Linked DNA regions of Homo sapiens. The protein of the gene in region 2 interacts with the protein of the main gene of each other region in a biochemical or structural test. Each region holds a gene or a part of one and is shown on either strand. Other genes may lie near its edges. The genes, in order: HNF1B, TBR1, NFIX and NFIC.

Region 1 (7,023 bases), on a different chromosome or scaffold from region 2:
GAGTGGCCCATCTCGGCTCACTGCAACCTCCACTTCCCGCCTCCCGGGTTCAAGCGATTCTCCTGCCTCAGCCTCCGGAGTCGCTGGGATTACAGGCACCTGCCACCACGCCCAGCTGATTTTTGTGTTTTTAGTAGAGATGGGGTTTCACCATGTTGGTCAGGCTGGTCTCAAACTCCTGACCTCAAGTGATCTGCCTGCCTTGGCCTTCCAAAGTTCTGGGATTTCAGGTGTGAGCCACCACACCTAGCCCACAGAGCGTTTTTTTTTTTTTTGAGACGGAGTCTCGCTCTGTCACCCAGGCTAGAGTGCAGTGGCGTGATCTCTGCTCCCTGCAAGCTCCGCCTCCTGGGTTCACGCCATTCTCCTGCCTCAGCCTCCCAAGTAGCTGGGACTACAGGCACCCGCCACCACACCCGGCTAATTTTTTGTATTTTTAGTACAGACGGGGTTTCACTGTGTTAGCCAGGATGGCCTCGATCTCCTGACTTCGTGATCCGCCCGCCTCGGCCTCCCAAAGTGCTGGGATTACAGGCGTGAGCCACCGCACCCGGCCTTTTTTTTTTTTTTTTTTTCGGTATTCTGCACACAGTTACGTTTCTGGCTTGGTTAGTGACCCTACCTTGGCTGTGGGCACTGAGGTGGGAAGAGTGCCATGCGGCTCTACAGACAGAAGCCACCCCTGAATGCTGGGCTCCAGCCTGCTGTCTGCCTGAGTGCATGACTCGGGAGCCCTGTCACGGCACACACGCCATCCTGGCAGCCTGAGGTGGGGACACAAGTCTTTGACCCCAGCATCGTGCATCTCAGGCACTAGCACAGCAGCCACCTCTGTTTCTAGTTCCAGGGCCAGGCTACATCTCACTGCCTCTTAGGGGGAATGCCCTGGTGTGTGAGATCAAAAAGAAAATGATTTCTGCTGCCTGCCAGTCTTCTCACTGCCCTTGTTTAGCCCTCTCTAATGTTAAGAGTCATAATGAGGGTAGTATGGGTTATCGGGAAAGGTGTCTTTATACATTCACTCCTTTCATCCTCACATGCACCCTGTGTGGAAGGTCCTATTTCTCCATTTTGTAGGCAGGAAATTCAGACTCAGAGAAGTTATGTGAATTAGCCACAGTTATAACCTTACTGGTTAGAACCCAGATACATAACTACACTCAGAGAAAGAGAAGCCAGTCCCTGGGCTTGGGACAAGGACCATGTTGAGGAGCCCAGAGTGAAAATTAAAGCAGAAGGGCTGGGCACAATCTCACAACTGTAATCCCAGCACTTTGGGAGGCTAAGACAGGAGGACTGCTTGAGACCAGGAGTTCGAGGCTGTAGTGAGCCAAGACTGCACCACTGCACTCTAGCTCGGGTGACAGAGGTAGACCCTGTCTCTCAAAAAAAAAAAAAAAAAAAAAAGACAGAAGAAAGGCAGCCACTGATAATATTCAGTGTCCCATAACTGTTGCTCCAGAAACAGTAATAGGATCTATTACACCGCAGAAAGATCCACAAAGCCCCCAAACAAAACCTCCATCTGCAGCTGGTTCTGGGGACTCGACAGTGACCCGATATCCTTCCTACCAGACAGTAACCTCCCAGAGGGCAGGACGCGCAGCTCGTACATCACTAGCATATTCCCAGGACTTGGTAAGCATTCAACACATCGTAGTGCTGTGGGAAAGTATGGAGTGGGAACCAGCAGGCCTGAGCTCTAGTCCTTGTTTTGCTACCATTGCTCTGTGTCACTTTGGCAAATCACTGCCTCTTTCTGGGCCTCAGTTCCTTTCTTCAAATTCCCTCCAAATTCTAACATTACAAGATTTTTAGAAAGATCCAGACTTCAGGGGCACCCCAGAGTATCCACTTCCCATGGGACACGCCCTTCCTAGACTCCAGTCAGAGGAGTACACAGGCTGTGTTTTCTGCCCTGCTCCCTGTCCCTCCAGCCCTAGCTCTCTGGGTCTCCTGTCAGCACACAGGATGCCTAAACCAACGACCCCGTGGTGACCTCAGCACAGCCCTTGCTTGTCAGAAGGCTGCTGGGCCTTTGTTTGGCTTCCAGGCTCCCTGACTTTGGTGTGGAGATCACAGGTCCCAACACAATGGCCATTGTCTTCCCAGTAATGCCCCTTGCCCCAACCACGCCCCCTGTAGCTCCCAGCTTCAGCTCCGTGGATCGCTGTGGTGGGCAAGCACACTGGTACTGCTCAGTGCCAGCCATGTGCCATTTGCCACAACCCTCAGAACCCTGCTTTGAATTTCCCTAAAGGGGCGAAGTTACTCTGCAATCAGGCCAGTCTTTGCCTAGGGGCTTCTCTGCCTCTTAAGTAACCAAGACTTTCTTCCTGTGTGGCTGAGCCTCTCTCCTCTGTGGGAGTGGGACCTACAGAAACCCCCAGCACTGGCCCCACCTTCATGCTGGGCACTGTCAGGCTCCCAGAGGCCCTGGAAGAGGCAGTGCTATGGGAGGGCACAGCAGGCATGGAACAAATGCTTGTACACCACCCAGCTGATGGCTCCGAGCCTGTCTTGGTGGCTTTGGTCCCCTCAACACTTGGGTCAGCCCCCAGCCCTCAGGCCTTTCTCATCAGAAGGGCAACCGACAGGTGAGGGGAGCCAACAGGTTTCAGAATCACCCCTGAGTTAGAAACAGTGTTTGGCTTTCCTTTCGCAAGCCCTTTTCTTGGAGCAGGCAGGAGGCTGCTACACTTTGTCCTCATGGGCACCACACAGACCCCAGTGAGCACATCCATTCTAGGAAGCCAGCTTTGCCAGAAGAATGAAGGACCAGAAGAAGTGCTCCATCCCAGCCTGTGCCTAACACAGCGCTCAGCATGAGGTGTGCTTTCCCCCAAGGAGGCTGTAGGATTCCATCCTGACAAACCCAAAGCCCACAGCAGAGGCATTCTAATCCAGGCCAGGGCCCAGCACACAGGAGCACTCAATCAAGCATGATGGAGCAGGTACTCGGTCAGTTTTTCCCAACTCATTGCTGCAAAGATTTCAAGTGACTGACCCCCACCAACCCTGATGACACACGGAAGCCAACAAGCAGAGGCCACCAACAGAGTGGCCGTCCCCAAAGGCTACTGAGCTTCTCCTGAGGCAGCCGGACCGAGCGAGGGGCAGGATATGGCCAGAGATGGAGGAGGTGGCCGGAGTGCCATCCTCCAACACAGTGAGGGTTGCCACGCCATCACGACCCGTTTGCCTGCGGTTTGGATCTGGCCCACCCATAAGGCAGCCTCCTCAGTGTAGAATGACCGCTGAGTCAGCAGCCACACAGGGAGAAGAAGAGGGAAGGAGACAAATAGGGTAAAGGGCTCCCTGGAAGCCGAGTGAGCCCTCACAGGGCAATGGCTGAACCAGGAGTTGGAGGAAACTGATCAGAGCCACACATTATTTCCAGGGGAGTATATTCTGGCAATGAGAGAGCGGCCCTAGGATCATCTCAAAAGCGTTTGCTCCTCTGAAAACCCTTAAACCAGATAAGATCCGTGGCAAGAACCAGGATGGTTGGGTTGCCGAGGCAGTGAGGCCCAACCTTTGCTTACCTGACAGCTTGTTTGGAGGAGAGGAGCTGGGCTGGTGGTGGGGGGAGCCGTGGGAGAGCAGAGGGTTCAGGCTGTGAGTCTGGTTGGAGCTATAGGCGTCCATGGCCAGCTTTTGCCGGAATGCCTCCTCCTTCCTGCGGTTTGCAAACCAGTTGTAGACACGGACCTCAGTGACCAAGTTGGAGCCCAGGCCGTGGGCTTTGGAGGGGGACACCCCTCGCTGCAAACATTCTGCCCTGGGAATGGATGGAGGGGAGATGGTGAGTGAGGGGGGGCGGGGGGACTTGTTGGTGCTTGGCCAAAAACACACAATCACAGCAGTCTTGGTTGGGAGTATGAAGGGGCCGTGGGCAGAATGGAAGGCTGGGGAGGAGAGGCCTATGCAGAGAAAAGGCCAATCCATGGAGTGATCTGATGAAGATGGCTGAAGTGGGCCTGAACGCAGGGACAGAGCAGGCTATGCCGCCCTGGGAGTCAGGGGCTTAGGCTCTGGTGTGGCTCTCGAGGAGAAGAGAGCAAGCCGGGGACAGGCAGTCCAGGGGAAGGTCCAGATGGGGCTTCCTTATTTAGCCATTCTTCCCACCACATAAAAGGCAAAGCCCTTCGCTGGCTCTGTCTTGAGTGGCTTCAAAGCACTTCGAGAGGATTTCTGGTCTTTTGGGGCTTGAACTCCCTGAAAGAGTGCCAGGAAGCAAGATGCTTTATCCCCTCCAAAAGGCAGGCTGGGTGGGGTACAAAGCAGGGTGCATTGAGATGGCCAGTCTCTAGCTTTATCAGGGCTGGTGAAACCTCAAAACCAGGTGCGAGAGATTCTTAGACACTACTGGGTGCTGCAAGGCATCTCATTAGTCGGGGTATGGAGCACAGCCTGAGGACTCAGTGGCAATACAGGCCTCCCTGCTTCCCAGCCTGACCTCCCTGGCTGCATTCTTCCCACAGCCAAGGCCAGCCCAGCCCAGAGACAGAGAAAGCGCACACAGGCCTTGGCCAGACCAAAGAGCTGAAGTTTTAGAAAGTCAATACTGGAGTCAGGGAGAACAGGGCAGGAATGAAGTAAAAAGATTTCCCAAGGCTTTCCAATCGTTTAAAAAAAAATAGCTGGGCCCTGTGGCTAGAGCCTGTAATCCCAGCTATTTAGGAGGCCAAGGCAGGAGGATCGCTTAAGCCCAGTTCAAGATCTGCTGGGCAACATAGCAAGACCACATTTTAAAAATAAATACTTAAAATAACACAGAGTTGTTTTTTTGTTTTTTTGTTTTTTTTTTAAATAGAGATAGGGTTTCACCATGTTGCCCAGGCTGGTCTCAAACTCCTGGGCTCAAGCAATCCTCCCGCCTCGGCCTCCCAAAGTGCTGGGATTATAAGTGTGAGCCACCGTGCCTGGCTGGTAGTTAACAAGTAAAAAGAACTCTGTTGAGTCAGCGGGGGCAGAGTGGACTGAACAGATCTGACCAATTCTTACTCTCCTGCCAAGTTTCCTTTTGGACCACTGCATGTCTGACAATTGGTAGAGGCCAGATCTAGAGTCTGTGGCTAAGGGAAAGTTTTACCCTGGCCTGCAGGGAGGTCAAACACACAATTTCGCTTCCCAAGTATCATATTTTAAATTAGCATTCTCCAGAGTATCTTCCCTGGAAGAATAATTCATGGGGTTGTTTGTACTCTACCGAAGATTCCATAGTTAACAACCAATTCAACAAAGCTAAGTGGGTTTCTTGACTGCAGGGCTTCTCGGAACCTTTAATATATGTTGTGACTCTCTAAGGGGAAGTATCCATATGCTGATTCTCAGACTTACTGATTAATGAATTGATATTGGGGTTCTGTGGAACATACTTTGAGAAGCTCTGATTTAGCCACACTTATCTGTATAACTAGTGTCTCAATATCCCAGGACCGAGGGGAGGGTTCCTGGGTCTGTGTACTTGCCCACCTGCCCAGGTGAGCTTCTGGTGGTGTTACCTGTTGCATTCCTCCACTAAGGCCTCTCTCTCTTCCTTGCTGGGGTTCTTTTGCCGATCGTAGGCCTGGTACAAGATTTGCTGGGACGCGGGCCCCCATTTGAACCGGTTGCGGCGCATCTTCTTGTTGGTGGGCTCAGAGCAGGCATCATCGGACTGCCCAGGCCCATGGCTCTGTTGACTGAACTCTGGAAAGAGAAACAGCAGCTGATCCTGACTGCTTTTGTCTGTCATATTTCCAGAACTCTGGACTGTCTGGTTGAATTCTGAAAAGAGAAAGGAGTAGATTTGATAGGGTCTGTAGCCTTCACTCAGCAGACAGACAGACAGACAGACAGACAACGGACGAAGACACCTTTATTCCCCTCGTCTAACTAAGCTTTGCAACCTTCTCTCACTGCATGTGGAGCTGGAGATGGGGAGCCCTCAGCACAGGCCCTTACTGCCCACCTCAGTTGCTCCAGCAAAGCCACCCTTTTCCTTTCTTTGAAGGAGCTCAAACATAGCCAGCTATAGTTTTAAGAAAATTATTATTTTTTCCCCTTTGGCTCACTGGCCTTCAGAGATGAAGCAACACTCTGCATCCTGAACTCCTGTATTTGATGTCAAGTGGGTGAGCTCAATCAAGTCTCACATCCAGGGGAGAACTGCTCAAAGGTACAATTTACACTTGCACAAAATATTCAGAGGCTGTAGATAGCACTCCCCACCTCTCCTCCCTCTTCCTATATCCTAGGTATCTACATTATAAAGTCAGGTTTTTAGAAAAACCCCAAACCTTTTGGAACATGCTTTGAAATAAATATAACTGGAGCTTTGTATTGGAAAAAGAAAATGTGCTTTAGATCTCAAAATAATTTCAAAGACTACAAACACAGGACCTGTCTGGGAGTAGTGTTTAATTAGCTGGAAATGATGCTCCCTGTCTGTCCAATTCCTTGAGTCCAGGCATACTGTGACCATCAGGAGATTTTTGTGGAATGAATGAGAACCAGCAGCTCGGCCCAGAGGTGATGCCTTAGCCCACATGGTTTAATGAGATTTGATATCTACATTACCGAAGAAGAAAGCTTTGCTGTCCTCGTCTTCACATCTGCATGAAGCAGGGCTCATCAGGAGTGATTAATTCCATTTTAAAGATGAATAAACATGGAGGCTAAGCACTCTGCTGAGCAAAGACACGTAATACATTCATCTCCTAGCTCTGGGTCCCTATGTTCTGGATCTTAATATCTTTTTTTTTTTTTTTTGAGACAGAGTTTGCCTCTTGTTGCCCAGGCTGGAGTACAGTGGTGTGATCTCGGCTCACTACAATCTCCGCCTCCCGGGTTCAAACAATTCTCCTGCCTCAGCCTCCTGAGTAGCTGGGATTATAGGTGTGCGGCACCATGCCCAGCTAATTTTTTGTATTTTTAGTAGAGATGGGGTTTCATCATGTTGGGCAGGCTGGTCTCAAACTCCCGACCTCAGGTGATCCACCTGCCTCAGCCTCCCAAAGTGCAGGGATTACAGGTGTG
Region 2 (7,023 bases):
TCCTATTTTGACATGCATTTAAATTACACCCTACTTTTGGCCAACGCCTCCCGCCTTACTCTGTGAAATTTAAAGAAATTCTTAACTCCTTATTTAAAGAACCTCCTTTTCCTGTTCGCATTATTTCCAACTTCAGAGAGAATCAGATAAATATGATGAGAAAAGTGCATATGTTTTCCTGAAAAAAGAAAATGAGCGCAGAAAAGTGAGACTTGGCTCATAGGTAGCTAAATAATTATAAATAAGAAGAAAAAAGTAGCTCCTGGAAGTACTATAAAACAAATTTAAGGGGGGAATGGGAGGTGGCTTCCATTAAACAGGCTGCCCATATTGGAGTGGGGACGGGCTAGTCTTCCTTAACCCTTAAATATCATCACCTATAATAATTAAATTATTTTCAAACTGTAAACTGCTTTCAAACACCATAGTTAGCGTTTTTACCAGGTTTATTTTACTTGTTATACACAGACGATACAAACGAGCAAAAAACAAAACGTTTCTCAATGGAGTGTGTTCTTGTATAAATTATTCAGTTCACAGACAAAACGAAACAAATATAAAAATCACAACATTAGATTTACAGAAGAGCCAAAATATACACACGTTTAGACCCTGAATTCCTATTAGGAAAAATCCCCCCATGGACTGGAATCTAGATTGAATATTGTGTATGATGCATATTTCACATTAATTTTTAAATACAAAAAAGTATAGGTTTGCTACACAACATTAGAAATCCTACTAATCTATTTCCAGGGGGATTAATGCTCCTTATCAAATATAACAAGACTTAGGGGAAAATCAGTCTTACTTGCATTAATGCTAGTGTTCTCCCAAGGAAGTCAAATTTCAGCTGTTTCTAGGTGGTGGGGAAGTCATTTTCAAAACTAAAATGCAGTAAAATATACAACTCACACAATTCATCTTCACTAGACTACACTATAGTTACCAACAATTCAGTCATCTATATCATTAATAGAGTATTCATTACAAAGATTTACAGCATATAAAGGTGAAGGGGTACTGAAAGATATTCAGAAACAGTTTGTCAGCATATTTGGCACCTGCACAGACCAGTAATGGATTTGGCACTTTGGGGAAAAACAAATAAGGCAAAATAATATTGCTGATGTCGAGCTATTCTATTTAGAAGGTGGGGGGAACATACAACTCCAGTTGACTTTGCTTTGCAGGCATCATGCCACTTAATCGACTTGCCTATGAACAGACACCTATCCTTTAAAGGTGTTTGGGTGGATTCTCCTTAGCTATTTGTGTGCATTAGGGCACATAGTAATTATTTCATGCAACGGATTGAGGAGAAGTGGGAAACCCATCACTACTGAGTATTTCATGTTTCTAGAGCCTCTTAGAATATTATCTCACAAGAAAATTAAAAGAGAGAGAAGAGAAAGTATGAGAGGAGAGAAAGAAAAGCAAAGAAAGGAAAGGAAAAAAAGGTTAAGCATGAACTGGTTTTGTGCCTTGACGAGAATAAAAACTAGCCATTCGTTACAATAAATTAACACTATGTACAATCATTTCACAGGCTTTGTTCCACTAAAATTATTAACATCCCTACCATCCATCCATCCATCCATCCACTCGGGGATAAGAAAGGACGCGCTGGGTGGGTCCAGGTTCTAGAGTCAACATCCTATGGTTAATGTGGAGGCCGAGACTTGGCGGGTCGGAATCGCTGCTGCCTGACAGGACTGCCCAGGTCTCCTAAAGGTGAAGAGTTTCATTACAAGAAAGAGAAGTAGGAGGTAAGAGAAAGACGAGGGGGAGGGGAATTGTAGGAGGATAACTCCACAGAAGAAGAGTAAGTAGGAAAACCAAAAGGTTTACAGCAAAGTTGAAGGTCGGTGAGCTAATTGCAGAGACTGCTGTGCAAAAAAGGTTAAAATCACGCTCGGAGACCTGCACTTATTCGCTGCAGACGGCCATCGAGGGTCAAATAAAATGAGTGGGTGCGCAAGGAGGAGTGTGGGGAGGCGGAGCTGGGGAAGAGCTGTGAGGGGCTGGCTGGGGGTCCGGGCCGCGGCGGGGCCGGGCGGGCAGGGGCGGCCTAGCTGTGCGAGTAGAAGCCATAGTAGCCGCTAATGTCCTTGGCGCAGTTCTTCTCGCAGTCCCGCTGGGCCAGCACCTCGCTCTTGAGCGGGGACGAACTCTCGGACACGGGCGTGTCGGCCGGCGAGATCCGCCTCCGCTTGGCCTGCTCGTAAATCCCCGAGTCGCTGGAGTCGATGGACTTGATCGAGGAGGGCGTCTCGATCCAGCTGGAATCGGACAGGTCCTTGGGCTTGGCGTCCTCGGCGGCGCCGGGCGGCAGCGGCGAGCGCTCGGCGGCCAGGCCCTCGGCCTCCTCGCCCAGGTAGGGATTGGCGCCGGCCATGCGCGCGGCGGCCGCGGCGCTGTTGGGCCAGCAGGGCAGCACCGAGCCCGACTTGGTGCCGCAGTACTGCGGGGGACTGCGGGCGCCCCAGCCCGACGGGTCGGCGTAGTAGCCGAGCGGGCGGCCAGTGCAGCCTGCAGCCTGCAGCGGCAGCGCCTTCACGCCCGCCGCCGCGTAAGAGAGCAGCGTGGCCGCGTTGCCCGCGAAGTCCGTGGCCGTGTCATAGGCCGAGGCCGCGAAGTCCAGCCGGTTGTTGGCCGGCGTCACAAACCAGCGTTGCGGCGAGGGCGCGCCCGGGTCCTCGGCCTGCTGCGGCGACAGCAGCCCGTTGGTGTGCGGCACGCTGCGGTCCGTACCCGGCCCGGGGCCCGCGCCCGCGCCCGGGTGGAAGCGGGCCTTGGCGTAGTTGCTCACGAACTGGTCCTGCAGGAAAGAGCCGGCCATGGCGTAGCGGGCCCCGGGCACGATCTGCGAGCGCGGCGAGTCGTTGGGCGAGGGGGTCAGGCGGTCCATGTCACAGCCGGTGTAGATCCTGCGGGGTAGGGAGAGAGAGAGAGAGAGCCGAGGGGTGGCGCGGAGGTCCCTTGGGGTGGGGGTGGGGGCAGAAGGGAAGGCCACCTCCACTTTTCGCCCACCCCCACACCCTCCATCTACAAACTTGCAGTCCAGGATTTCCTGGAGAATACAAGAGGCCACAGACCTCTATCATTCCCAAAATAAATCACGGAATTATAGAGGAGCCAATCTGTCTATGCAGGGACCTGAGCAAGATACAGACCATCAAGGGAACGACTTCCCTCTTCTCTTGCTCTCTCTCGTCAAGTGTACTGGGGTACTGAGAGAGGGGCACAAGCAAGGACTTTCATCCCACTTCTCCAACATATGTGTGCACATTAAGGCAGATTTACCTAGGGAGTAAGATGCTCTTTGCCCAGTGGGCCTTTCCTCTGCGGTCAGTTTATGAGTGAAATTTCTAAGCAAGGTACTCACTCCTCCACCCTTTTAAGACCTCCTGTGTCCATTTGATTGTTCAGGTGATATCTCTCCTTTTTCTAGATTGTTTCAGAAACCCCTAGGAAAAAGCCGCGCACGCAGTAATCATGAAAGACTGGCCTTCACCCGTGTTCTGGAACCCGAGGTTTGCTGCTGGAAGCCTCCAAAGTACTTAGTGTCTATTGTTTCCCCTGTGTGAAACTTTCACTCCCACCTCTACTAATACAAACAAGAATTACTACTCTGAAACAGTAGTCATCAATCAGAAATATTCTCTTAAGAGAAAAGGTGTTCTTTACTCTGACCTTCTTTTCCTAGCTTTTGGTCCGTTACCCGCAGAAACTTCGGGGCAAACCTACAGTGTACTTATCAGCCTACTCCATGCAATGGACCACTAATAATAGCTAACCTTTACGGAGCTCGACTATATGCCAGGCACTGTGAGCTAGGTAACTTTTATTATCCCACTTTACCGATGAGGAAATTGAGGCAAAAGGAAGTTAAATAACTTGCCCAACCAGCGACAGTGATTGTGTTGTTGGGAATTACCTTAGATAAAATAATCAAAGATTAACTTTAGGCCCTGGGCCTAGAAAATCCCATTAGAATTGAGAGGAAACCAAGGGTTGGATGAAGATTGGTAGAAGTGTTTTCTCATACACATGCACACATGCCTCCCTTTTTATTTAGCTCACACATAAATGTTTTAATCTTTAGTCAACAGACTGTTTTGAAGGAGAGCCTCAGTCTTGTCAGACCTTAATCCTTTGGGGAGGAGATTCCCTGGTGAGTGGCCAAGCAAGCTCCTAGTACCCCATGAACCCTTATACTTCTCCCTCTTTCTCCAAAATTGAGCCATGTCCAAGTAACCAACGTAAAAGGGGAAAGGAAGAGTGTCATGAACCACTCAACTCTTCTCTGTCCCCTAAAAATCTCAGGTTTGTGTGTGTGTGTGTGTGTGTGTGTGTGTATAGATAAAGAAGCTTTTATGAAAGATTTAAAGTGATTTAAGATCAAAGAGGAGTGGCTTTTCCAACAGAAGGCAGCCAGAGGAGGAGGGGCATGTGAGAGTTTTGCTGTGGCTGCTCAGGTCCGTTCTGTTTAGTGCACAAAATTTCCCTTCTGAAATTGAATTCCAGTTTCAAATAAGAGAAGTAGAGGGAGGCAGGAAGGGAACATAACTAGCAAGGTGCAAATATCTTCTCTGTTTATCACCACAATATTTTAAAAAGAAAAAAGCAGTCCGCAAAAGATACAGTTTAGATGCCTATCCAGGTCCCACCCACTTGGGATTACTGAATTGATTTGTGCAAAATAAAATGCTTTTGAACAGATGTTCACAACAGAATTAAAATCTCAAAATCTACAGGACTCTCCTCTAACATCTCTAGTCTCTTGAGCCATATACTTTCCACTGTGCTGGGCACACCTTTTTAGATTGTGAGGAATAGAGTAGCCAAGTTTTTATTCTGGGGAATCATATTGATGAGACTTGGTTCCTTTGGAGTACTTTTGAAGAATATATATGGTGGTTATAGGCAGTAATATCAATGACTCTCTTTTAAATTATTAGAAAATATCAGGAGGGATGGTTGGTATCTGCTTGGAGATGGAATAGAGGCAGTCACTTGTCTCTTTCTCCACACATTTAATCTATGCTAGTCAAAGGCAGCTTCAACTTTTTAGCTCTGTCTCAGGCGCTCAATGTAAGCCACGAAATTAAGATGTATGTACCCTTTCCTTTTATGGTCAGAAAACGTGGGGGAACCCCACAATCCAGATTTAGATTTATGACACTATCTGAACTCTTAGGCACTATGGACCCTGAGTGAGAATTGCAGAACAAGCCCAGAAAGCATTCAGTTTACACCTACTGTTGGCCCCAGAGAACAGCCTTTTGATAGAAAGGAGGGAGGTAAGGGAGGCCTAAAGAAAAGGGCACCAGCATGTTTAATTAAAACACACCTAGATACAAAACAAAGAGGAAATATTTTTCTTTTGAAGCTTATAAATAATACACAGCAACACCGTCTGAATCTTTCCGAAAGCCTAAAATGACCATAACAGCGGTTCTGCTCATGAACTCGCCTGTGGTGGGTGCACATTTGTATTCAGTCCGTAGCCAACTTGCACAGGAAATGCTATTATACAAAACTTGGAAATGGGTAAATAAAGGTCGCATATGCTAAGGAGACTGTTAACAACTGCCAGAGGAGCCACATGCACTTTTAGGCAGAATTGCCCGTTTCAGACAGACATAGACAATCTGAGCTGAGCATCTGCAGCGCCACATACAGTACTCGCACCCGAGAACCAGGGCAGCCTCCCCAGCCAGCCAGCCAGCCCCAGAGGCCCACCAACAACTTTGTAATCCACAGGAAAGTTAAAATTAGGTGGAGGAAACCTCTGACCAAAAACCACGCAAGTACCAAGCCACAAGGTCACCAGAGAGAAGGGGAGCCAACCAAAAAAAAAAAAAAAAAAAAAAAGAAGAGGAAGAAGAAAGAAGAAAGACGAAGAAGAAGAAGTCCTCTAAAACAACCTTGTCTTCACACATTCCAGCTTTCAAAATCCTTGTACATAATAATACACCTTTGACCTAAAGCCCAATTCCACAGCTATTTGAAAAGGAAGATACAAAGTTACTTACGTGTCATAATTATCCCGAAATCCTTTTGCAAAAGGGTTGTGATCTATTTTCAGTTGTGTAATCTGGCAAAGAAAAAAAATGAATGTTATCTCACCTTTTATACGTGAAGACTGGGTGTTTGAGAATATATCATCTGCCACTTTTACAGGGGCTTAAGGCCTACAATTTATTAAATAGCAAGGTTTTCCTAACTGAAAAATTTGAGGGATTGAGTGGAAAGGAAAAAAAGAGAAAGTATCATGAAAGTTATGAGGAACATGTTTAAATTAATGATACCTATAGCCAAAGAACTGCTTTCAATTAGCTCTCCTGTGTTTTCTAAATTTGTTCAAACTCACATTTTAAAAATGCTTGTTACACACAATGCACTTGTTCAGACAAAAATCTTTAAGGAGAACTTGAATTCATCACTAAATGTTGACTATTTTAAGTATTTTATATTTTAAAACGTTTGTCGCTTCTGACTCACAACCTGAGAAACCACAAGTTGCATCTTAAAATCAGGTTGGATTTAAAAGCATGTTTTAATTTCTGATATTATCATTTAAGTAAAAAAAAGAAACAAACACAAAAACCCCTATCACTCCTAGTAGTCAAATCAGCCACTAAAATCTGTTTTTGCAAACTTGAAAAATCAGAAGTGGTTCAAGTGCTAGAAAGCTCAATCCATAGCCCTCAGTAATTTGATTTATTGTAGTTTTCACATATATGAATGTGTATGTTCTTTTGATCTCCCAGAACAGTGATGTTTGTTCATTTCAGCCATCAGTTCTGAGATGAAAAAAAGAGAGAGAGAGAGAAATTTTTTTTTAGATGCCAAAGCTTGCCAAGAATAAAATGCACGGGGAAATCTGCTTGTTTTCTAAAGGAAAGAGAGAATTTTTTTTTAAAGTAGATTTTAATCTGTTCTAGTTCAAAGCCCAAATTAAAACTCCCAAAAGAAGAGTCTTTAGAAATCCTGGCCACCTCAAAGGTGGCCCGG
Region 3 (7,023 bases), on a different chromosome or scaffold from region 2:
ACCCTGACCCAAAATGCAGGGTAAAACTGGAAAAGCGAAGAGAAGCAGAACTACTTGGAACACAAAAGGAAAAGGAGATTTTACAGAGTTTTTTTTTTTTTTGGTTTGTTTGTTTGCTTGTTTAAGACCTCTTCCACAGCAACGCTGCTCCCTGCCATGCCTGTGCCCCGAGAAAGCCTCTCTGCTCCCCAGTGCCAGGGCTGTGGGCATCCATCCTGAGGCCTTGCCACTTTAGCTGAAATAAGGAGAAGGGAAAGAGCTCAAGGAATCTCGTCCTTGTTTTCACTCTCTATGAAATCAAATTACTTTCATACTGACAGCCAAATCCCAGCCAAAACAGCTCCCGCCTGAGTATTTAGGCCACAGAATCTGCCCACTACTGTCTTCTCTCCTCTTTTCTGTTCATTCAGTCTCATATCCCAGGGTTTCACATGCCCCTTCTCTCCACCGGACTCCTGCCCATCCCGCTTGTACCAAACCCAGTTTTTCCTGGGACTGGAGGTGAAGCTGCAGTAAAACTAGCACCTGCCCCTCAATACTTCTTCTGACTCATTTTAATAAGAGCAATTACTGGTTTGCTGTTGTTGTTCATCTCAAACTCTCACCATCATGGATAATTCTGGGGGCATCATGTCCCCAATCCTAAGACCTGCAGCATCTTTCTGATCAGATAAGTCCTCCAAAGATGGAGATGCACAAAGTCGATACCATGGCCAGGGGGCAGAGGAGGAAGAATAGAACAGGTCGGGGGAGACAGAAGACAGGAAAAAGGAAAAGGGCCCATAGAACCGTGTTGCAGGCCCCGCAGGACGGGCATACACCAGTTAGGCCCATGGCGAGTTATCGCTTGGAAATTAGAGGAACAATAAACAGAACAAATGCCAGCAAGGAAAATAAAATGAGAGGGAAAAATGGTTGAGAACGACCTACCCGGAGTGTGGACAAAGTAAGCCAGATAAAGATCCAGTTCTTTGATTGTGACTCCAATGTGATGTGGCTGGACGCACAGGCCGGGGTTCGAGCACTGAGGCGACTTGTAGAGCCGCTCCCCATCAGTACTTTCCAGGGGGATCCCCTTAAACAAAATCACCATGACCAGGTCCAGCCGCCACACCTTGTCAGCCTGGCGCAGGCAGTCAATCCGCCGGATCTTGCCCTTCTGGTCGGGGTTGGAGAGCACGCAGCAGGGGGGCTTCTTGCCCGTGATGGTCAGCACGAAGTCCTCGCGGAACTCGGGCCGGATGTCCTTGCGCAGCTTGGCCAGCAGCCGGGATGCCCACTTCTGCTTGATCTCGGGCTTCTCGCCCAGCAGCTCGTCCTTCACCGCCCGCTCCTCGTCCTTCGACATCCGCTTTTCATGCTTCTTGAAGTACTTGCGCTTCCGCGCCTGCAGGTTGAACCAGGTGTAGGAGAAAGCGCGGACGTGAGGCAGCAGTGCCTCGATGAACGGGTGGAACTCATCCTGCAGGCGGCAAGCCGGGAGCATGCGGGGCGAGGGAGGACGGGAGGAGGGGAAGACGGGATGAGGGGGAAAGAGAGAAGGAGAAAAGCAGCGTTAGAAGGGGGGGCACAAGGAAAACCGCCTTCTCCTCCTCCTCCCTCCCCCCAACAATTTTCTCTTGCGATTGTTCTACGAAAGTGTGGTTTGAAGCCACCACCAGCTTCGCCAGCCACTTGCTCCCATCTCAGCCTCAGCAGCCAGACAGAGGCACCGGGAGCCTCTACACACACCTATTCTCTCTCTCTCTCCCTCACTCACTCACACACACGCGCACAGACAACGTTGCCGTCCACACACACACGCTGCTGGTATCCCCGCCAGGCTCTGTCGCGCCCATGACATCTCCATGTTCTATCGCAGCCGTGAACTCCTGTCAGCTCGCCCCGGCACAGTGTCCGTCTGCACAGACGCCCGTGGACGCACACGCGGGGGCGTGCGGGGCCGCCTCTGGTCCCCGACACCGGTCGATTTTTGGCCGCCCCCAAGAAGACAGAAAATGACATCCACGAGCAAGCGAGTGAGGAAACAGATCAGGCTTCCCTCTCCCCAGGCTGTTTTCATTTTCTTTTCTCCTGATCCAGTTGGAACATCCACCCCAACATTTTTTAATCAGACCTAAATCCTAAATATGTGATTTCAGCTTTGTTATCGACACCAATACTAATGTTAATCACAGTAATAATGAACAAAACACTTCTTGTTAGCACAAATAAGGTGCTTGTCTCGGCCACATTAGGGTTAAAAGCTACATGGGTCTTCTTGCGACCCCTTCCCCAGCCTCCCACAACCCCTTCACCCTTTTTCCCACTCAGTCAGGTGACAGAAGGATGGGCTCTCTCGGTTTTGTTTGGTTTTTTTTTTTTTTTTTGGTTGTTTGCTTGTTTGAAGTTTAAATAATAATTGATTTCTGTTTACAAAAATAAAACTGGAAAAAATTAAATAATTACCATTGATCTGAAGCACCCGGCAAAGCCCAACGCCCGATTCTGAGATTCTGGACTCAAAAGAGTTGTGAGTTGGGGGCGGGTGGGGGGAGGGGGGAGGAGGAGGAGCAGGGGAGGAAGGTAAATGTTTTAAAGGGGGTTATTATTGGTGTTCTGGGGAATAGGGGCCGGGCTTGGGTGGATTCTCAAACCCTTCCCCCTCCTCCCCCCCCCCATGCTCCATTGCACAGAAGGGGGAAATTAATATTTTTTTTGAAAAGGAGCAAAAAGAAAGAAAGGTCAGGGATAGCAAGCAGAGAGAGGGAGCGAGCCGGCTGCCACACACGCCAGGTAAACAAAAGCCAACAAAATTTTTTTTTCAATTTCTTCCCCTGTGCATCCTCTTCCAGTTTAAAAAAAAAAAAAAAGAAAAAAATGCAAAATTTAAAAATCAAAACCAGCCTCCCACCATCTCCCCACAACCAACAACGCACCCCACCCCACCCCCGTGCAAAACAAAAACAAAAACAAAACCCAGGAGGGAAAAAGCGGCAGCTGAAGAAAAAGGCTTTCGGCTTTGGCAGCGGCACAGGGGTGTAAACTTCGAGCTGCCTGATCGGAGGAAAAGGGGGAGCTCGCAGATTCCCGGGGAAGAGGACGAGTTCTGACCGGCTGCAGACCGTTGCTGGCAGACGCGTGCAAAAGAGAGAGAGGGAGCGAGGGAGGGAGGAAAGGAAGAAGGGGGGGAGGGAGAGATCGAGGATCGAGGGAGGACGTGGATGGGATGGGGCGTGTGTGTGAGTGTGCGCGTGTGTGTGCGCACTGGTTGGGTTTTTGGGGTGTTTTTTTTTTTTGCTCCTTTTCTCTCTCTCAAACTCCCTCTCTCTCTCTCCTTTCAGGCTCAATCCCCATCCATTTGCTTGTGCCAAGCCAGTAAAAAGGGGTGGGGGGAGAAAGAGACAGAGAGAGAGAGAGAGAGAGAGAGAGAAAGAGAGAGAAGGATCCACCTATTTGGCAAAGAGACATCCACGAGCAGCCAATGGCTGCGTCCAAGGGGAGGAGGGAACCGGGCGAGCAGGGAGGGTGGGGAGAGCCCCCGGCAGTTGGAGACCAAAAACAATTTGCCCAATCGACAAGTTCACGTCTAATGAACAAGCAAAGTCCAGCAGTTATGAATTTTTCATTCCAGGCTCCCACTCGGGTCCATTTGGCAGCAGCCACCCAGCAAATCTGGGGGTGGGGTGGGGCATTGGGGGGGACTGGGATTGTGGAAGACTCGAAATTTTTTTTTAAGCCTGAAAAATAAATAAATAAAGGCCTGACTCCCGGCGGGCTGGCGGGCGGGAGCCCCAGAAGGCCTTGGGGAAGCAGCTGCGCCTTCTCTCTGTGTTTTGGTTTCAGTCTTTCTCTCGGGCCTGCACACTCTCTTTTTCTGTTTCTATTTCTTTCTTTCTTTTTTTTTTTCTTCCTATGGAGCACACAGGGGCGAGTGGAAGTTTTCCTCCCCGGCCACATACACACGGGCCTGCGGTGCTATGAATAGAAATAAGAAGAAAGAGAGCTCAGAAAGTGTCCATGCCAGCAGTACTTCCAGGGCAGGGATCTGGTGCCCAGGGTACTGCCACCTTGTGATGCCCCCAGGTCTGGCTGCTGAAGGAGCACTCTCAGACAAGGGGGAGGCCAGCACCCCACACGTCCCTCCCTTCTCCCCCAGCCCCCAGCAAGCTCAGCCTCCTCCTTCGGCCCACACCCAGCCACGCACACTCCATTAGCGGTGACGAGGGATGCCAACGCAACACAGCTCGGCTCGAGAAACTGCAACAGTTTATTAAAATAGCCTCCTGTCACAGCACTCCGCCTGACAAGCTCTACACGCAGCCACAAACAACAGCCAGACCCGGGGAGAAGTGACAAAGGCAAAAAGATGGACACTACCTCTGAGCAGAGGCAAGGAATCTGACCAACGCCCCTCACCACTGCACAGGCATTTAATTCTCCAGATCTGCCCTCTCCAGTTGACCTGAGATTAGTTTTCTTACCTGTCTCCCAAATCAATTTAGACTAAAGAGCCCAAACCCTAGCAGTGCAAAGTGCAAAAGTATAAAATGAGAAACCCAAATGAAAAGAAAAGAGCTAAGAAAGGACACAACAAAAAACAGCAAAGGGCTCTATCAAAAACAGGCCACCTGGGGGAAATCAAGTCACAGAGAAGTGACCCACCGGGGAGCCCCTGCTCTGGTCCTCCACTTGGGGACCTTCCTCACAGCAAGCAGAAAGGGTGAGCACTGGGTAGGGGAGTCCCACTTCTGAGGGGGTCTCTCCAGTTAGAGCTATGGAGCAGCCATGCTTGAGGCCTTCGAAACACAGTAAGAAGGAAATAGATATGACATAAAAGGAAAAGCAGAGGAAGAAGGATGTGGCTGCAGACAGGGAGAAAGGGATCCAATTCCACTCAGAACCCCATCCCTACAGCCGCCCTCTCCCTCAGCGAGGCTCAGTCCTCAGCTGGCGACGGAAAAAAGGTCACTGCTCACTCGTGCCCCTTTCTTCCCCAACTGAAACCCTGTGCTTTGTGGCCTTTATGTTGGCAGAAAGGTTCCCGGAAGAGCACCTGGGGCATGCCAAAATAAAACATCCAGCCCTGGGCTGGCGCTGAACCCTGACAATGGGAGAGGGGCTGCCCAACACCTGGGACCCCAGTCTGTGCCCTGAATTATCCATCTCAAGTGAACTGAGCTCATGGCTGATCCCTGAAAGAAACGGTTAGAGGTGAGAGTACAGAAGGCAGGTGGTATCAGAGACAGGCCTCTTAGGGTGGTGTCCAATAATTCACATCATGTTAATAACCAGCTTCAGTCCAATCAGCCAAAGATGTTAGCTCAGAGACATGACATAAGGTACCAAATCCTGCCTCTCCACCTTGTGGAAACAATTTTACCTTCTAAAGTCAAGATGAGGTCATTAAAAACTACAAGTGAGTTTATATTTGGCATGGAGGTGTTTTTCTTGTATTCTGATTTATACTAAATATTAGACACCAAACAGAAAATGGCCAACACGAGCCTCCTGGAGAATCCTGGCATGTTCCACTTCACAGACCACAGTGCCACAGTAGAAGAGACATGCTCGACATGGGTTGAATCTGAATCTGGTGGTACAACTGGGTCAGGGATAGAGGTGGGGGCAGCAACAGTCCCACAGCTGGGAAATGACAGATGGAAGGATCCATGTAGAAGTTAGGGAAACAGGACAAGATGCACGACTGGCTCCTGGAGAGGGGTTGGGGGTCAAAACTCCACGGACTGGCGGAGAGATCAGAGGAGAGGCGGCAGAAGAGTGTCTCAATAGAGCCTCAGGGACCTACAAAGAGCCCCAAGCACCCCCTCAAGGCTCTCTTAACAGAAGAAGCAACAGGCCTTTCCCAGGGCAGAAAGTTGGAGGAAGAACAATTGTCAATTGTCCTTCTCCTGCCAGTGGCTATAACCTTGCAGGTGGGCAGAAGATTCTCAGGCAAATACTTTCCCCTCACCCCATTCTCTCTATGGGCTGCTGGCTCCCAGTGGAGGAGGCCTTTCTGGAGGAGTGGCCAGGATATTCTGATGCTTCGGGAGATGAGAAGGTCTCTTTCTCTATTTCTCTTTCCTCCCTCCCTCCCTTCCTCCCCTCCTATTTTGGGCGCACACAGAGGAATTGCTCGGGTTCCATTAGAAACATTTCAAGCACCCTTCACTGCGGGCCCCCTCCTCCTGCATGCCACTGGTGGCGGCCATCAGCCCAGACACGCCCCTCATGAGCCCTAGACAAAAGGAAACTGTCCCCCTTTTGTTAAAGAGTGGAGGCTCCTGTTGGAAGATTACCTGTTCCCAGCCCAGCCTCCTTCTCTTCTCCCCTCCAGCCCCAGGCAGGAGATCAGACCGCTTTACATCCTGCACCAAAGACCAGAATCAAGACAAAAAATCCCTCATACGATTCAAGGCTTCTCCAGGTCTGAGTCACTGGCAAGTGTAAGAGTTCAGGTGATGGAAAGAGCAAGGGGACATGCAGGCCACAGAGTAGAAGGACATGGGAAATGGGGAAAGGAAGCCACTGATGCTGGTAATAGGAAGAGAAAAAAAAAAGACAAGGGGGGAAAAAAGGAAAAGCAGGAAACATTGTGGGGGAAAGGTATTTCCCCCATTGGAGAGAAAAATCATCGAGAAGCCAGAAATAAGACTTTTTAAAAATTCATATGGGTTTTTGGTTTGTGGAAAGGGATTTTGCTGCCATTATGGAAGAAAAGCCTCTGTCTTTTATTGTTGAGTACTATTTGGTAAAAAAAAAAAAAAAACAAACAAACAAAAAAAAAACCAGCAACAGTTTTCACTGAAACATTTCTAAAATACATACCCATGCCAGTTTCAGCCATCACTAGGAGAAATGTACCCCCAACAGAAAAAGACTGAAAGGGCCACGGAGAAAGAGAAATAGAGAGAAGGAGAACGAAAAAAGAGAAAAAAGCCAAACCTGGAGAGAGAGTGCCAAGCTAGGCCCACAACTGAAAAGAAAGAAGGACAAAGATGGAGGGAAACAGAACAGCAGAGGAAGAAAAATAAGAAGACA
Region 4 (7,470 bases), on a different chromosome or scaffold from region 2:
CCCAGGGCCGCCAGCACCCACTCCCCACTCGGCGGGCCGGGCCCGGGTGGCACAGAGCGGGCTGGCACCGAGATGCCCCCCACCCCCCGCCAGCCTCGGCTCCCGAGAAGGATCCGGGTCGGATCAGCTAAAAGGGAGCTATTTTCGGTTGGGCTCAGGTTGTAAAATTAGCTGGGAAAAGGGGGAGAGGGAGGCCCAGAGACAGAGAGAGACAGAGAGAGAGGAGTAAGGAGACACATGCAGAGATAGAGAGAGACAGGGAGAGAGGGGGCAAGGGGAGACACGCAGAGACAGAGGAGAAAGGGAAGGTGAGACAGAGATGAAGAGACAGACAGACATATTGGAGAGAAACAGAGACAGAGAGGAAGGGGGCAGAGAGACAGAGACAGAGAAACAGACAGAGACACATCGGACAGACACACAAAGAAGGCAAAGGGAGGGAGAGACAGAGAGACAGAGACACATCAAAGAGACATGCAGAGACAAAGAGGAGAAAGGGATGGTGAGATAGACATGAAGAGACAGAGACAGTGGGAGAGACTGAGACATCAGAGAGACAGAGGATGAGAAAGAGAGACACAAAGAGACCAACAGTGACTGGGAGTGAAACAGAGGCGGGGAGAGACAGAGATGGAGAGACAGGGAGAAACAGACACACACACACACACACACACACACACACACACAGAGTCAGAGCAAGACAGAGAGAAAGAGAGAAAGACAGACAAAAAGAGACCAAGATGAGAGAAACGGAGGGGACGTGATTCGGGAAACTGAGTCAGGCAGCCAGGACTTGGGTGGGAGGCTCCTGCATGGGGCACTCAGGGTCCTTCTGAGTCCCCCAGCCCACCCCACTGGCTACCCCAGACCAGGCTGGGCCTTGGGGGAACAGTGGGGATTACATTCAGGCTGAAGACAAACTGGAAAGGGGGTCCCCAGCTCCACTACAGGGCTGGGGTGGAGGGCGGGGCAGAGAGGAGAATCGCAGGGGAGGAGGGAGCCCCCTGCACTTGGGACTCGCTGTCCCCACTCTGGCCTGGGAGCTCTCTGCCTCTGTCTCTCTGCCTGTCTCTGTCTTCTCATCTCTGTCTCTTGCACGCAGCACCCCTGGATAGTTTTTAGTTTTTAGCCTCTCCGTTTTTTGGTTTCCACAGACAGCCCTCCTGGCTGGTCCTTGCCCTGTTCCTGGAGAAACTGAGGCCGAGTTAGCAATTCTCTGAGGCAAAGCCTGGACTGGGGTTCTTACTAACCCCCAACCCACCCCAGCAACCAGGATGTCTCCCAACCAGCCCTGATGGGGGAATTCCAGGGTGCACAGGCAGCCTTCCAACCTCCCCAGCCTGGAACAGCCTCCCCTCCGCTCAGCCCTCCCAAATGGCTCCTTCCAGCTGGTGAGGACAGAGCGGGGACACCTCAGTCACCCCACAAGCCCAGAGACTTCAAAGGCTGCCCGAGGTCACACAGCGTGCCCACTCGAACCCTAGTTGTTCTTGGAGAACTTCAAAGAGATGCCTTCTTCGGGAACCCCCCCCCCAAAGCTGCTCAGAAAGGGAAACTGAGGCTGGGACAGGGACTTACCCAAGGTCACTCAGGGGATCACAGGTAGGACAGACCTCAGACCCCCTCAGCACCAGCTCCCACATTCCCTGTCGGCTGCAGGGGGCCGGTGAGAAAGACCCTACCAAGGAGCATGCCTGGCGTGGGGGGTCCCTCACTGCACCATGCCCTGGAGCGGAAGCCGGGGACTCATATACTCCCCACACAGTGCTTCTTAAGACGGGCCTGGCCCTCGCTGGAATCGCACCCCCCACGTGCCGGGACTTTACAGTTTGCCCGCCATACTGTCCCCTCTCCAGAACCGGCCTTAGCCGCACCTCACTTCAGGGGAAACTGAGGCCAGAACCTCTCCAGCCTAAAGACACACTGCGTAAGGAGGAAAGCAGCGGTCTAGAAAACGGAACTTGCAGACCTCGGGGTCCCCGGGAGCCTGGGCTGGAAGGAGTCCCCGGGGGGAGCCGCCCCCTCCCCACACACCCCCTCGGCCATTGCACAAGGCTCGGCCCCGGGGCAGTCTGGGAGTGCGGCCAGGGGTGAGAGGCTACGGGAGGGGGAGGGGGAGGGGGAGGGGACGGGGCAGGTGCCGGGCTGGCGAGGGCGTCCGCAGCGCCGCAGTGCCCGGGCCAGACCCGGAGCGCCGGGCCTCCCGCTCCTCCCGGCGGCGGCTCCAGAATCCAGAATCCAGAATCCAGAATCGATGCAGCGAAAATACCGGGACGGTGCTGGGGGGCTTGCAAAGGAGGGGGGACCCAGCCGGGCCGCCGGAGCACCCTTCCCCCTCCTGGGCCTCCAACTTCTCCTGCCCCCTCCCCCTCCATGCACACGTGGGCCAATAACGAGGGAAAGGCGACCGAGGGCCAGGGCGGCCCGCACAACCTTGGTGGGGGGACACGGGGAAAACACATGAGAGGTCCCTTTCTCTCCAGCTGGGGAGACCCAGGGTCCAATCACGACCCCCTAGATTCCTCTCAGAGGCAGGCGGGGGGCTTCCCGCAGAGCCCTTGCTGGAGGGGGGCCAGCCCCCACCCCGACCTTTCCGAGTGTCGGGGCGGGGGTGCGGAGTGCGTCGGTGTGTGGGGGGGGGACGCAAATCTGCAGACCAAGCCCCACATCCGGGAGAGGTCCCGAGAGTCGGGGTTGGGGGTGCTGGGCGGGAGTCCCGCGTAGGGGGTCCGCGGTAGGTAAGGGTGTGGGGGGGGTACCCCAGCCTGACCCATCCCCCCACCGGACCCCAGCCCTCGGCGCGGGGGGCATCCCGGGCAGGGATGGCGGGAGGGACGCGCGCCTTTTTCGTCCCGCCTCCTCCTGCTTCAAAACTCCGGGGCTGGGATGCGGGGGGCGCGGGGGCGCCGGCGGGGGGCCGGGCGAGGACCGTACCTGGGTGAGGCAGAGCGGGGACGAATACATCCCGGGCGCGGCGGGAGGCGCAGGGCCGGCCGGAGCGGGCGCGCTGAACTTACTGAGTCATTTTTCCAAACCACCCCCCCGCCCCCCCCAACCCCCCCCCCCGCCCCGCGGCCGGCGCGCTCTCCTCGCCGCCTCCTCCCTCGGTCTCCCTCCTCCTCCCTCCTGCTCTCCCTCTCTCGCGCCGCCCGCCTCGCTCTCTGTCCCTCTCTCCCTCCGTCTCTCTCTTCCTCTCTCCCCCGTCTCTGTCTCTCTGTCTCTCTCTCTACCCTCTGACACCCTCCCCCTCCCACCCCGAACCTCCCACTTCTCAACACCCAACTTTCAAAGAAACGAGGGAAAAAAGGGCGCGAGCGAGAAAGGAGAGCCTCCCCCGACGTCTCAGGACCCCCCCGCTCCTCCCGTATTTACGCAATGCCCCAGGGCACTAGACCAGGACCCCAGGACTGCAGGGCGACCCCAATTCGGATCAAGCGGAGAGGGGGGACAGGGTTGTTTCTGGACATTGAGGGGCCAGGGGTGGATTTTTAAGGCCCCCCCTCCCCACCCCCCCATCACCCCCGAGCTGGCCGGGAAGTTGGAGGAAAGAGCCAGGGGGGAGGGAAGGAATGAAGAAGTGACGTGCGCAGAGGCCGGCCAGCGCGCCTCTTTCCCCTTAAAGATGTACGACCCTGGGTGCACGGTGAGCTGGTCCCACAGCACCCTGGCTCCCTTCTCCCCCCAGAGCCAGGCAGGGGCTGCGGGTCCCCAGCTAGAGGGGCTTGTGTGCAGCTGTCCCTTCCTTGGCCAGAAGGGCCCAGGCTAACACGGGAGGCTCCAGAATTTGCTCTCTTCACCCAGCACCCAAGGGGCAGGGGAGGGGTGGCCTCGCCTGTGTGTCTCTCCAGCACCCCAGGAGGACGGTGTCCAGGCGGGATCTCCAGCTGGCCAGATAAACCCTTGCAGCCTCCCCCTGGGTATCCAATAATTTCCACCTGCCTCAGGGGTGTGCCCTTTTCACAGATCTCAAGACTGAGGTATGGCAAGTGTGGCTTGGAGCCAGGCCATCTGGACCTGGAGCCCACATTCTGTTCTCCTTCTAGACGTAACAGGGCAGAGACCTGGCCTGCCTCCGTCTGAGCCCCCAGGGCATCTGATGACAGGGCCCCAACCCTCCCCCGGTTCACTCCCTGGATCCTCCCAGGCTAGCTCAGAGGCTGCTGTGTCTCTCATTCCCATCCCAAGGGTTCTCCCCTATAAAGTGGCTTAAAGATGCCCATCCTGTGGGATTGCTGGGGATAAGGACAATGACCTTAGCAGAGCCTTGACCTTGGGTCAAATGTTCACTAAAGACACATTCTTAGAAAGCTTGGCCATTTCACCTCATCTCTCTGAGCTTCCCAAGGACAAATGATACCCTCTCACCAAGCTGGGGCAGGTGCCCCAGGCCCAGGGGCGCAGAAGATACCAGCACCCATTATCCTCAGGCATTACAGGAGAGGAAACTGAGGCCCAGAGAACGGAAGCCACTTGCCCAGGGTCTGACAGGTAAACTAGGAGGGAGCAGAATTCCTGCAGCGTAGGTTCCCTAGGCCCCCCACAGGCTCCCCTCTGCATGACGGTGACATTATTCAAACAGTGCTTAGTACATCACGAACGGTCCATAAATGTGTGTGTCTGTGTATTTTAAACCCACTGTGCAGCTGTGGGGAGCATTTGAATTAAATGGTGAGAAGTGTATCTGGAAATCCACATACCAATATAACGTGAAGCAATTTATTTTATTAAAACACGCTAGGGACACATACAGGGTGAAATCTAAAATTCACAGATATTTAAAAGTTGCAGTTGACTTCAGACACTCCTCCTAGACTTCCAGACCCCGTGCCTTCCACCCTCCCTCCCCTGTACAGACCACCCTGCCTGCAGCCTTCATTCAGCAGCTTAGAATCCTTTGGAAGGTGAAGTTTAGAGAGCAGAGACTGCCCCTCTTGGAACCTCGGTTTCCTCATCTGTAAAATGGCTATAGTAACAGGATGCATCTTGGGAGGTGGGGAAGGTTGGAGTCTTTACATAGCATGTGGGAAGGCTGTGTGAATATTATTGGTGGCGGTAGCTGCAGGGAGAAACTTCTGCAAGTGTACGAACAGCAGCCTATATCCCAGTTTGGGTGGCAAGGGACCCCCGCAGCACACACAGTTGGTTCCCTAAATTGCCGCGTGGGCTCGCTGCTTGGGTCTATGTCTCCTCCAGTCAGCAGCTTCGTCTCTCTGCACCTCGGCTCTCCCTCTGTGAAATGGGGCGACGCCAGCTCATAACCCTCCAGGTTGTAGGCAAGTCAGCAAATACCTGCCCGTGGTTACAACAGGGAACTGTACGTCATAGTTTCTTTAAAAAGGCAATTGGTAGATTGGGACCTGCATGTGGAGGGCCCGGAAGATGGGTGCATGATTTAGCTCCTGGCACTTTCGAGCACAATCTGGCTCATTTTTTTTTTTTTTCAAAGCACTCTCTCTACAGTTATTTCACTCTTCGGCATCTCTGTAACTGTCCCAGATACAGGAGCACAAAAGAGTTGACTGCCACCTATAAAACTAATGCCCACAATTTGGAGGCAGCCATGCTGTCCATCTGTGGGGGACCGGTTTAGTAATCCCAACACAGGCTGGGACACTATGCAGCTGAGTAAAACCAGTGGCTCCCAACTGGTTATGTCCCCAAGAGACAAGTGGGGGGACAGAAAGCTGGAGAGCTCTCCCCCTTGGCACTGTGGACACTGGGGCTGGATCGCTCTCTGGGTTGGGGCCGTCCTGGGCCCTGCAGGGTGCTGAGCAGAGTCCATGGCCTCCACCCACTCCATGCCAGGGGCACCCCCCAGTCGTGACAACCACAAATGTCCTTAGACATGGCTAAGTGTCCCATGGGAACAGAATCAACCCTGGCTGAGACCCCACTGCTGTAGACCCAGCAAGGAAATTCAAGATCTCATTTAGGGTTTTAAAGAGTACACATGTATTTATACAAATATACATAGTATCCTTTACATACACACACATGCACACACACCCACACACACACATATCTCCTTTGGCCGGTTGTAGTGGCTCACGCCTGTAATCCCAACACTTTGGGAGGCCGAGGCAGGCAGATCACTTGAGGTCAGGAGTTTAAAATCAGCCTGGCCAACATGGCGAAACCCCGTCTCTACTAAAATTACAAAAATTAGCCGGGCATGGGCGAGGGTGCCTGTAATGTCAGCTACTCGGGAGGCTGAGGCTGGAGGTTCGCTTGAACTCGGGAGGTGGAGGTTGCAGTGAGCCAGGATCATGCCATTGCACTCCAGCCTGGGCAACAGAGCGAAACTCCATCTCAAAAAAAAAAAAAAAAAAAATATATATATATATATATATATATATATACACACACATACACATACATATACATATGTCTCCTTTATGGAAATACACGAGTATTTCCACAAGTACATCCTTTATGGAAATATACACATATGCACATGTATCCTCTATAAGTGTGTATTTCTCAGTCCTGCAAATGCTCCAACTATAGATGGTAACATTCTGGAGCGGGGTTCCACCCAGGAATGGGGGTGATCAGAAAGATTGGATTTTTTTTCCTCTGGATACAGTTGTATCCTCTTCATATGATCACTAATGGCTTCAGTAATTAAAGGAAAACTTAAAAAGTTGAATGCAATTCACAGAGCAGCTCAGGCAGGGTAGACAGGAACCCCCAGCCCCCCATGGTAACCCCACAGCCACCACACCCAGAGAATAAAGGACATAATCTTGCAGGCAAATGATTACACAGCAGTGCAGTGTGCAGTCAGCCTCCCCTAGCCCCGCACCTGCTCAGCAAGGGGCTCACAATGTCAGCTCCCCAGGAACCTTGCAAGGGTCCCATGTGGTCCCATTTTACAGATGAGAAACTGAGGCTGTAAGAAGGGATGTTAAAGTCAAGTGAGTTAAAGGTCAGATAGGCCGTTGAGGCTGGTACAGATAGACACACACACCACACACTACGACCTACAGAGACACACAGACACACATCGTGCAGACTCAAGCAGCTGCAGACACAGACTCCACACGACACACAGCTACATACACAAAGACACAAATACACGCACAGACTCACATAAAAACAGACCCATATATCATCACAGCCTTCCCCCCACACCTGACCTCAGATACCTCCTCAAAGAGGGGCGAGCAGAGACACACACACACACACACAGACCCACATGGCACACACACAGCCACAAACACACCCTCCCAACTCCCCACAGGACGCTTCTTGACAAGCACAACGCATGGATATAGCTGCCCCCACACAAGTGCAGACACAACCACAAACACATGGGCACTTGTCCACAATCACAGACACACTCCACACAAAAGCACACACTCTTACAAGCACACACACACCCACAAGTGGAACCCCCCGGTATTCCCATACAGGCACACACAGAGTCACATACGCACCATCACAATGACACACAGCACGCCACCTCCC

What was found.
Region 1: the proteins of TBR1 (region 2) and HNF1B form a complex in vitro, tested with the Homo sapiens proteins (one study listed by BioGRID).
Region 3: the proteins of TBR1 (region 2) and NFIX form a complex in vitro, tested with the Homo sapiens proteins (one study listed by BioGRID).
Region 4: the proteins of TBR1 (region 2) and NFIC form a complex in vitro, tested with the Homo sapiens proteins (one study listed by BioGRID).

The regions. Positions count from the first base shown.
Region 1 is NC_000017.11:37,728,050-37,735,072, forward strand, and holds part of HNF1B (hepatocyte nuclear factor 1-beta), read right to left. Parts: intron 5,773-7,023; coding exon 5,508-5,772; intron 3,782-5,507; coding exon 3,546-3,781; intron 1-3,545. UniProt on the Homo sapiens protein: Transcription factor that binds to the inverted palindrome 5'-GTTAATNATTAAC-3'. Binds to the FPC element in the cAMP regulatory unit of the PLAU gene. Transcriptional activity is increased by coactivator PCBD1.
Region 2 is NC_000002.12:161,419,276-161,426,298, reverse strand, and holds the end of TBR1 (T-box brain protein 1), read right to left. Parts: intron 6,104-7,023; coding exon 6,042-6,103; intron 2,931-6,041; coding exon 2,072-2,930; 3' UTR 429-2,071; downstream 1-428. UniProt on the Homo sapiens protein: Transcriptional repressor involved in multiple aspects of cortical development, including neuronal migration, laminar and areal identity, and axonal projection.
Region 3 is NC_000019.10:13,019,460-13,026,482, reverse strand, and holds part of NFIX (nuclear factor 1 X-type), read right to left. Parts: intron 2,512-7,023; exon of another isoform or gene 2,452-2,511; coding exon of another isoform or gene 2,449-2,451; intron 1,905-2,448; exon of another isoform or gene 1,850-1,904; coding exon of another isoform or gene 1,764-1,849; intron 1,705-1,763; exon of another isoform or gene 1,487-1,704; coding exon of another isoform or gene 1,463-1,486; coding exon 931-1,462; intron 1-930.
Region 4 is NC_000019.10:3,362,131-3,369,600, reverse strand, and holds the start of NFIC (nuclear factor 1 C-type), read right to left. Parts: upstream 3,019-7,470; 5' UTR 2,965-3,018; coding exon 2,935-2,964; intron 1-2,934.